Regions from separate parts of the Homo sapiens genome. Here region 1 is linked to region 2. The links come from fine-mapping of genetic effects on gene expression. A gene starts in region 2. The other region holds a variant in brackets. All regions are shown on one strand. Distances are between the middles of the regions.

Region 1 (5,393 bases), 26 kb before region 2:
TTAGATTTAACAGAGCTAAGCCTCATCCATCACTGATCAGTCTTCAGGTATAAAAGTAGGGATTCATGCTGGCATCAGCAGTACATATAGTAAAATTGAAACAACTTTGAGAAGATCAGCATGGCCCCTGCACGAGGATGACACACAGATCTGTGAAGTGTTGTATATTTCTTGCAGTTTCCAAAAGGGCATGTGACTACTTTCTAACTAGCTCCAAGGAAATGGTGTGAGTCAAAGCAAAATGGTTGTCACCCAGTATTGCAGTTGTGATTTTCATACAAGAAATATTGATGCAAGGTGATATATGAAATGAGATGTGGTAACACATAGGATCTTGTGTGCAATATGCTGTTAGTGCATCTCAGAAATGAGGAAATACCAACTTGCATCTTCCTTGTGGAACTTACAAAAAATAAAGGTAGCGTTTTTTCTTCCACAGCAGCTGGAAATGAGCATAGTGACTAAGCATCATTCTAACAAAGATTTGTTGATTCAGAGTTTCAGGAGGTAGATAAAGAGTAGTAATAGTCCAAGCCAGATGCTGACATCTATTAGTTTTCTGCCCTTGGTGTGATTGATGAGCTCAGTAATAGAGGCTAATCAGGTTATCCAATTTAATGAATTCATATATTTATAAATAAATTTCATTACAAATTATAAAATAGCTTAGATGCCTTGAATTACAAGCCACAAAGAATAGAACATCTAATAACCAAAAGTAGGAGTTAATAACAGAAAAGTGCAACTTTTGAACATTATAACCTACGAAGAAACTTTTTTTTGAAATTTATTTATGTTTTGTAGAGACAGGGTATCCCTATGTTGCCCAGGCTGGTCTTGAATTTCTGGGCTCAAGTTGTCATCCTGTCTCAGCATCCTAAAGTGCTTGCATCACAGGCATGAGCCACTGCACCAGGCCAAAACATTGGATTTTATTGGGAATTTTAAAATAGTTTCAGCAATAAGGTTGAACAACAAGGTATTTCATTGCTTCACTATTTATTCGAGCATTTTAAAAACATTATCATGTTGAATCTTTATAATAAGCTAGTGAAATCAGGCTCTAAAATTCTCATTTTTAGAAGACGTTGAGCCTAACAAGCAACTTGTTCAAGAAAAAATACCTGTTGGTTACCACACTAGGACTTATTCTGAATTAAGGACATTTTCCATTATGCCAAGCTAACTCTAGTTAATTTACGGAATTATGCTGACCTCAATTCATGAGTATTTCATCTTACTTTCTTTCTTCTTTTATTAGCAGCTTAATAAGTTCCTAGAGCTTACAAACTTAAAGTCTCTGGAATAAGTAATGTTCTGCTGTTAGCTCTGATATTGTCTGAAATAGTCTAAGAACTTAATAAATTTGGAAAATTTGGTAAATGTTAAAATAGTAATTTTATTTATTACATTTTTATACATAGCATTCATCAATGTCTTTTGGAATATAAACAAAAGATATCTAAAAATCCTCAAAATAGCAATCCAGGTAAGACTTCTGATAGTAAACTACTCTTGGTGGTGCTACCATAAGGTTATGGAAATGTTGATCATACAATAGCAATTAAAAAAGCAATGTGGAAATAGGATGTGTTTACATATATACATATGTGTGTGTGTACATATATATATATAGCTTTGATTCAATTTTTTAGTTTATAATTCAGAATTAGTTATAGGTAGTTTATAATCTCAGAAAATATTATCTGAAAAAATATGTTTTTAATTATGGTCCCTAAAATTTTATATAATACTTTTGTATAAATAAGTAAAACAATTTTTTTTTTTTTTTTTTTTTTTTGAGACGGAGTCTCGCTCTGTCACCCAGCCTGGAGTGCAGTGGTGCAATCTCTACTCACTGCAGTCTCCGCCTCCCAGGTTCAAGCTATTCTCCTGCCTCAGCCTCCCGAGTAGCTGGGATTACAGGCACCTGCCACCATGCCCAGCTAATTTTTTTGTACTTTTGGTAAGACGGGGTTTCACCATGTGGGCCAGGCTGGTCTCAAACCCCTGACCTCAGGTGATCTGCCTGCCTTGGCCTCCCAAAATGCTGGGATTACAGAGATAAGTTAGGTTCTTAAGAGATGTGTATTAAAAGCTCCTACTTTAATTATATTTTTATCCAAGTTTTTTTTTTAATTGTTTAAAATGTACACATTTTACTGTGTATTAT[T/TG]GTACATACAGATTTTTTACTTATATTTTCTTCAAAAAATAGCTTTTATCTTAACAATGATTCTATTTATTCTGATTTATACTTATAACTATTGATTTCAATTCACCTGACATTAATATTGCCATTCGTGCTTTCTTTTTGTTGAGTTTGCTTTGTTCTCACCTTTTTTTTACCTTTATCTACCTATCTTTATTTGTTTTAAAGTGTTCTTCTTATAAAAACAAACATGGTATAAACATATTCTGATTAATGTGATAGTTTCCGTCCTAATAGAAGTACGCAGACTGATCACATTTATTATAACAATTGATATATGTGATTTATTCCTTCTGTCTTACATTGTGCTTCATCTTTATTTTACTGTTGGCCTCCCCTAGACTTTCTTATCTTTTTCTGATTTGAAATCCACTCTTTTCCCCGATACCCCACACTGCTGTTGATTTGGAAACTTGACTGAAAAACAATTCTACAATTCCATTCATAGTTATCTTCTTTATTTGCCACTTTCATGGGAAAACAAGTTTTTCGATTTTTTCCTCACTAAGATTCTATTTGTCCATTGCTTTCCCCTTCATCCCAATAGATGAGACCTTTAGAATGTTTTTATGTTTTGCATCTAGTTACGTAGCTGCTAGATTTTGCTGAGATAGTTTAATATTTTGAACTTCAGATTATTAGTTTTTCCCTTGAAGTGTATCTGTTCTGTTTAAAGTGTCTTTGCCTTTGACACTCCCCCATTTCTCTGCTCACCACCACCCTTTTTTCATGGTTCCATCTTCAAGTCCCTGTCTTGATTATTTTCTTAAGTGTTTTGCCCAAACAGGATGGATAGGTGATATATTCTCTGAATCTTTGCATAACTGTTAGTACAGTTTTTATTTTGCTCCAACAGTTGATTGATATTCATTTGCATGTAACATATCATCATGCCTCTTTATCTACCGCCTGAGCCATATTCTCCAGGCTAGCTTTTATCCGTAGTAAGCTGATATTTTAATCTCTGTCTATCTACTGCGTGGTCTCTTATTCTGAATTTCGACTGAAGAGAAAAAGGAACATGGTTGCTTTTTTTTTAATGCAGCAATAAAGAATAAATAGAAAAATTTGCAATGTTTATAATTGCTTAAATTGAAATATCATATGTATATATATGAATAAGCAAGAATAATATTCTGAGTACATTAGTATTATATTGAACGTTAAATACTGATTGATCCAACTACTAGTCATTGAGCTCCTGGAAGCCAGGGACAACATTTTAAACATTTCTGTGTCTCTAATGTATTTGCTGGAAGACAAAATATATTTCTCTTCCTACCCTTCCTCTCCCCCAACTCCTCCAATCTAAAATTGACCCTGTTTTCAGTACAACAAGATTCCAGATGGAAGTCAAGGTATATAGTGATTTTATTAACCCCGGTAGCAAAAATATTGTTTCAATAAAGATAAAAATTTTACATTCCATCTATGGTTTCCTTAATTTAAAAATATATTGGTAATACAGTTATATAGTTCAAAATCAAAGTGATATAAAATGATATTCATTAAGCCATCTTGCTCCCACCCTTGTCTCTATCAGGTTTGTACCTGTTTTTCCCTGCAGAGTTCATGCATTCAACAAATATTTATTAAATATTTATTGAGTACTTAGGTGCTCATTGTGTGCCAGACACTGTTCTAAGTGCTAAGGGCACAGCAATGGAAACAACAACAACAACAAAAAAAAACCAGGAAAAATAATTGTGGCCGCAAGATGCTTACGTCTAGTAGGAGAGACAAATTAACAAAACAAATAAGTTATATCGAATATTAGGAGATAAGTGCTGCAAAGGAAAAGAAAACAGGTGTGCACCACCGTGCCTGGCTATTTTATTATTATTGTTTTTTTAGAGATGAGGTCCTGCTACGCTGCCCAGCCTGGTCTCAAACTCCTGGGATCCAGCGATCCTCCCCTCTTTGCCTCCCAAAGTACTGAGATTACAGGCATGAACCATGTGCCCAGCCAATATATATATTTTTTCTTTTGAGACAAGGTCTGGCTCTGTCGCCCAGGCTGGAGTCCAGCGGCTCACTGCAACCTCCGCCTCCTAGGCTCAAGGGATCCTCCCACTTCAGCCTCCTGAGTAGCTAGGACTACTGGTGCATGTCACCACACTTGGCTTAGTTTTGAATTTTGTTTTGTAGAAACAGGGTTTTGCCACATTACCCAGGCTGGTCTCAAACTCCTGGGCTCAAGAGATCCAGCCACCTTGGCCTCCCAAAGTGCTGGGATTACAGGCGAGAGCCACCATACTGGGCCAAGATTTTTTTTAATTGGTTAAAACAAAGGTTTGGTATTGCCTAAAATAACTAAACAAGGTGGTATTTTATACACAGTTTAGTCAAACTGAGTATTTTCTGTCTTCCTTTCAAACACTGATTCAATGTGATTTTTGAGTGTGTTTTTCTCATTATTTGTCTTGCGAAAGAATTTCCTCCTTATTTGAAGAAAAGATATAGTTTGAGGAGACAGTAGTGGCGCTTCGGCCGCGCCCAGGGCCGCGGTTCGCTCTTCCCCGCGTGCGACCAGGCTGCCAGCACTGGGGACCTCTGGCGCCCGCCCGTCCGCAGCCAGCGGGGACAGCGGCCGCTCTGGGGAGGCGGCGGGGCAGGGGCGAGGGGAGGCCCAGCCCGGGGTCCGCCGAGCGTGACCTTCCCCGGGGCGAACCTCCTATCCCCACCCCTTCCCGGAATCCGTGCAGGGGCACTGGCCACGCCTGCAATCATAGCAAAAATGTCCCAGTGGGGACCATTCAGTAGCAAGAAATAGCACGGCGCGCCACCCTTACAGTCACTAACTCTTTTGTTCTCCGTGTTTAGGTAGAAACATGACTCAGAGAATCGGGTTCCCGCTCTGCAGCCTAAGCCAGAGGCGATGGTTTCCGCTTCTGCTTCTCTTGGCAGTGACCTGCCTTGACTTGGTCTGCTGCCTTTTGCAATCTGCTCTTGAAGGAAGGGCCAGCCTCTCGCATCTTCCTAGGAACAAGTCCGACCACGATCAGGGCTATTGTGAAATTAGCTAAATTAGTCCGTTCTCTCGACTTTTGGACTCTCTCCTCTGAATGCCTTATAGGTATAGTTTGGCAATCTCGCTCACACCTGGGTGTGAACCTGCGTGTACCCAGCCCGGGAGATATCGGGGTCTGTACAGGATTGGTACCCCTTATGGGTTAGAGAGACC
Region 2 (5,393 bases):
TACCATGCTCTTTCTCTGCCTTCAAAACAAATATTTAATATTCTCCTTAAGAAAGTACAACATTCATTCACTCTTATTACTCACTACATTAATGAAAGAGTGGCCTATTTGAATAGAAAGAGCTTGGCCTTTGGACTCAGTTCAACTTGGGCTTGAATAAACTTTACGGTCTTTCACTTACTAGCTGTCTCTTAACCTCTCTGTGCCTCAATTTTCTCATCAATAAAGTGAAGATGAATACAGCAGTTATCTCACAGGACATCACTGTGATGCCTCGATGAGAATCTATGCAAAGTATTTTGAAGAGTTTTTAGCACATGTAACAGCTCAGTAATTGTTAGATATTATAATTATAACTTCTACTTAACAAAGACAACATTTTAAGTAAAATAATACAATCATGCCTACTTTGTGGTGTGTTTTAAAGGTTACAGATAACACTGTATTTTAACGGTTCTAAGATGCTCAATTTCTCATATTTTAGCATCTCTGACATTGAAATGCCACTTACAATTCATTATTTATTAGAACTATATTTGGCAAAAATTTAAACAATCTTTTATTGGTACATAAAATAAGGAGGCATCACACAATTCAGGGTGCCTTCCATGAAGTGGAATATGGTATATACAACAGGACGATGGTAGTCCTAATCACAGGATTTACACTTAAAGAAATTTTAGCTTTTAAGAGTACTACGCAAAAGGAGAGTTGAAATAAAAACAACAAATTGTTAAAACAAAGTACTCCTTTAATATTTTAAAAACTTCAAGCCAAAGAAAACTTGGGATTCAAATGAATAGGTATGGCTCATTTTATTTTGTATTTAGATTTACAGAATGTATATTAATTCATATTTAGATTTATGGAGGGAGTACATGTAAATTAGGTATTTCCAATTATTCATATTACTATTTAAAGCTGTTATAAATTTCCAAAATCGTGGTTGGTAGTTATCTTTTACTAATTTCTCACTTCAGAAGTATTTTTGTTTGAAAGATGAGAGGAAAAGCTTCAATTGAGATTCAGTCCTATTACTCCAATTTTAAGCCTCTCATGTTGCTGAGGCTGAGCAGGTAAATGTGAAATTTTTAAGGATGAAAGGGTCTTGAGAGTTAATAGAATGTGTCTTCTACATAATAGGCATTCAGCTTACATGTGATAAATGGATTCAAAGAATGGATAAATATAGTTGGGAAGTTCAATATCTTAAAAAACTGCTATAAATAAAGCACTTATATTTGCTACTTTATTTTCCTAATAACAAAACTACACTAAAATGATTAATCTGTAATTATTGACATATATATAATAAATCTAGATATAATAAAAATATGTTTCTAATAAAATGTACATGTAAATCAACAAGCACAGATAAAAAGTTTCTCTTCTGAAAATGCTAAAAGTTCACAGAATATACTAATCCACAAAAAATAAAAATTAAAATATAGAAAGTGAAAAATTATTTTAATCTGTGCAAAATTCATATTCCTGCTCTTCCCCAAAATTATTTCATTAATAATAAACTTTTACTAATAACATTGTACTTGTTCAATGCAGAAATCAAAGATAATAAAAAGGAAAAACATTTTATATTAAAACAAATGCCCTCAAATAACAAATTTTATCATATTTCGTACATAATTTCAGATAACACAAGACCATCATCTGTATGTATAAACAAACTGAACTTTACCCTTACTTGGTACACCAAAATACATTTTCAAATGTCAACATACTTCTGTATATGTTTCTACATTCAGTGGTCACATTTTATCCCACGCTGTAAATTCACTGAAATGTATTTATAAAAGCCATTGTATGGATTCTTCTTAATACACTGATATTTTAAGCAGCGCTCAAAAAAGAAATTGTGTGTATGTTTCCTTATTTTCTAAAAATATCTTAATGTAATAGAATTGATCACCAACAGGCATATACAATTTTTTAAATATGGTACTTACCACCAAATTGTCTATTTGAAAAGTCATCTGCAACTTAAACTTTAAGCAGCAGTATAAATATCACTGCTCTTTATCCTCATAAACTTTGTGGATAGAAAACAGTATTTGATTCCTGTTTTAACTTAAATGCCTTCTCTAACGAGGAACACTAAATATTGTTTCCTGTGTGCATAAGTCACTTGCAGATCTAGAAGAAGGAGTTTGCCCAATTTTAAATTAGAGGCAAAGTACTTTTCTTAGATCTGCAATTTACATCTCTAATTTAAATTGCCCAATTTTAAATAGAGGATTTTTTTGTTGATTTGAGTGAATTCTCTGTAAAATGAAGATTTTTAAATCTGCTATATATACACACATGCACATACATGTGTAGTAAATATTTTACAAGTATGCTGCCTTTTATTTTTTCTCAAATGCAGGGTAATTTTTGTTTTGCTAAATTAACCTTCACAATGCTTATTTCTGAGAGTCTTAGAAAGGTTTTGTCAACATAAAAATGTATCTGTGTAAATAGGCATTTATATTTTCTTCTGATTTTTTTTCATTTTGTATATTAAAAATTTTTAATCTATATTCCATCAGGAACTTATTTCTTTTATGTACTGTAACTTTGGCATTTTTTTCTAGAGATCATCAAACCCAAGAGAGTCTAGATTTTCTCCTGTTATTTTCCAGAAGTTTTATAGTTTTGTATTTGACATTTAGGTCCGTGATTCATTTTGACTTAATTTTTGTGAGAAGGTAAGATCTGATTCATTTTTTTTACATGTGGGTATTCAGTTGTTCCAGCACCACTTTCTGAAGAAACCAACCTTTGTTTCATCATGTTGCCTTTACTTTTTCATCAAAGATTAATTAAATATATCGATGTGTCGCTATTTCTAAACTCTCTGTCTTGTTTCATTAACCTGTCTATTCTTTCATCAATATGATACTGCCTTGATTACCGTAGCCTTACAGTAAGTCTTGAAGTTGAGTAGTGCCTGTCTGTCCTCCAGCTTTGTTCTCCTTCAATATTGTGTTAGCTATTCAAGGTCTTTTTCTTCCCCATATAAGCTTTAGAATTACTTTTTCTATATCCATAAAATAATTTGCTTCCATTTTGATTAGAAGTGCATTGAATCTGTACATTGGTAAGAAATGACATCCTGATGATACTGAGTTATTCTATTCATGAATATGATGTATCTTCTCCATCTCTTCAGTTCTTTTTTTATTTCCATCATCACATATGGACAGTTTATGAAATTACATAACTCCCTCTACCTTGACCAAAGGACAGTGATGAATTCCTCGTTCTGCAGCCAACAAGTCACCTCTGAGGGCCATGTGTCTAAACATAGACAGGAGGGTAAGAAAATGATAAAGACATCCTGGGAAAAATAGGAAATTCGAGAATCAGCAACTGTGTCTAAGTAACTCCTTTCCATTTCCCCAGGACACCTGTTGCTTCAGCCAACACCTGCTGGCATGTGCTGAGGATGCTGGTGCTGCTGGCTTTCCCAGCCCTGCCCCCGGGGCTGCTTTGGGTGTGTGCCTCTTGACTTTAGTGAGAATGTACTTTTTCATCCCTACCATGGGTGAAAAGTTTTCACAAATAAAAACTTTTTAAAATAATGCCAACTTTTGTATTAGATAGAGGTGCTGCGTGTGCAGGTTTGCGTGTGTCTTTTTGGTAGAATGTTGTATTTTCTTTTGGGGATATTCCCAGTAATGAGATTGCTGGGTCAATTAGTAGCTGTGTTTTACATCTTTTGAGAAATCCCCAAACTGCTTTCCACAGTGGCTGACCTAATTTACATTCCCAGAGACAGTGAATAGGAGTTTCCTTTGCAGCCTCGCCAGCATCTGTTAACAAATGACCACTTTTATTCCAGACATAGATCATCTGTTAGTTTTGATTTTAGCACATCCTCTGAAGAAGATAGTGTTTTTCACAACCAAAGATGATTTCACCTTCCAAACGTGTTTTTTTTTTCTCATTTTCTGATGGCATGCGGAACTTTCTGTCTGCATCAGTTTGGGTATAAGTTAAGAGCATTGTACCTTGAAGTGTCCCATCTCACTGTTCCCATGCAGTGTTCTGTCCCAGAACTCTTCACTAGCTTTTTACCCCTGTGGGCCCAGTAGGGAGAGGAGCCCCCCAGAAAGTCTTTCACCAGGCAAGTGACGAACTAAAGAATTACACAATCATGTGTGACTGTTCTCAAAGCTCCCAAACATAGAAAGGGGGACAGTTGCAGGCAATACAGCTTTATTAATGGCAGTAACATCTCAGCTCAGCAGGAAACATACTGTGGGCTATGAGAACAGGTTACAATGAATATTGAGGCAGAAAAAGTCACATTAATCACATATTAGCCCCAAAATGCTCTTGCTCAAATGGTAACTGTCCTTCCTGCACATGTGGCAATACCAGACTTGCAGAAAGCACACGTGGTGAGAGACAAAGCCTGCTGCCTGTCTGTGAGCTTCAGTGCCCAATGAGACGCAGCAAGCTTTCGCCTCTTCTTTCTACACTCCTGCTTTTATTGCACAGTACTTTTTTACATATGTTTTATTCCATTTTTGAATGTTGTATTCCATTGGTCTTTCAGACTAATGATGAAACAACACAACACAATTTTAATTTCCAAGTCTCTACAATATTTTAAAGGGGAAGTCACTCTCTTTTAATTCTCAGACTTTTCATGGATATTTTAATTTGTTTGCTCTTCTTTACAATAAAATTTCTATATCCAGAACACAGATGTTATCTATATTGGAGTTAAAATCAACTTATTTTATTTTTTTTATTTTTTGACTTTTATTTTAATCTCAGGGGCACATGTGCAGGATGTACAGGTTTGTTACATAGGGAAATGTCTGTCAGCAGGGCGGGGTTGTTGTACAGATTATTTCATCACCCAGGTGTTAAGCCTGGTGTCCATTAGTTTTTTTTCCCGATCCTCTCTCTCCTTCCACCTTCCACCCTCCGATAGGCCCCAGTGTGTGTTGTTTCCCTCTATGTGTCCATGTGTTCTCATCATTTAGCTCCCACTTACAAGTGAGAACATGCTGTATTTGGTTTTCTGTTCCTGAATTCCTTTGCAAGATAATGGTCTCCACCTCCGTCCATGCCCTTGCAAAGGTACATATACACCATGGAATACCATACAGCCATAAAATCAACTTATTAATTAAAGTACTTTTGATGTCTTAATAATGTTGACCCTGCCTAATCATGTAATGTCATAATTTTTCATTTATACAAATCTATTTTTAGGTTTTTAAGAAACATTTCGCACCAATTCCATACTAATTAAATTATTTTAAATAATTTTCTTTAAAATGTTGGCATTATCTCTTTTCCATCTATGAACACAAGACATTCTCATTAATTCAATTAACATAATTTGTTGTGTTAATGAATTTCCTAACGCGATGAGT

Direction of the effects. Alleles are on the strand shown, and positions count from the first base shown. SD is a standard deviation of normalised expression in the study named.
For the expression in thyroid of the gene that starts at base 2,100 in region 2, allele T in region 1 goes with a higher level than allele TG (large effect, 1.0 SD a copy in GTEx).

Evidence for each region. PIP is the estimated chance that this variant, and not a neighbour inherited with it, causes the effect.
Region 1: its variant is fine-mapped to the expression of LINC02673 in thyroid (GTEx, PIP above 0.99). The same link has a PIP of 0.9 or more in testis.

The regions. Positions count from the first base shown.
Region 1 is chr10:27,315,055-27,320,447 of GRCh38, forward strand. It overlaps the pseudogene ODAD2P1 and the pseudogene RNU6-666P. Among named protein-coding and RNA genes, the nearest start is that of LINC02673, 26 kb to the right of the region's middle. The variant T/TG (reference allele first, on the strand shown) is at 2,174.
Region 2 is chr10:27,341,337-27,346,729 of GRCh38, forward strand. It overlaps LINC02673 (long intergenic non-protein coding RNA 2673), which reads left to right and starts at 2,100. Exons shown (of 2, transcript NR_187428.1): 1 at 2,100-3,315; 2 at 3,403-3,581.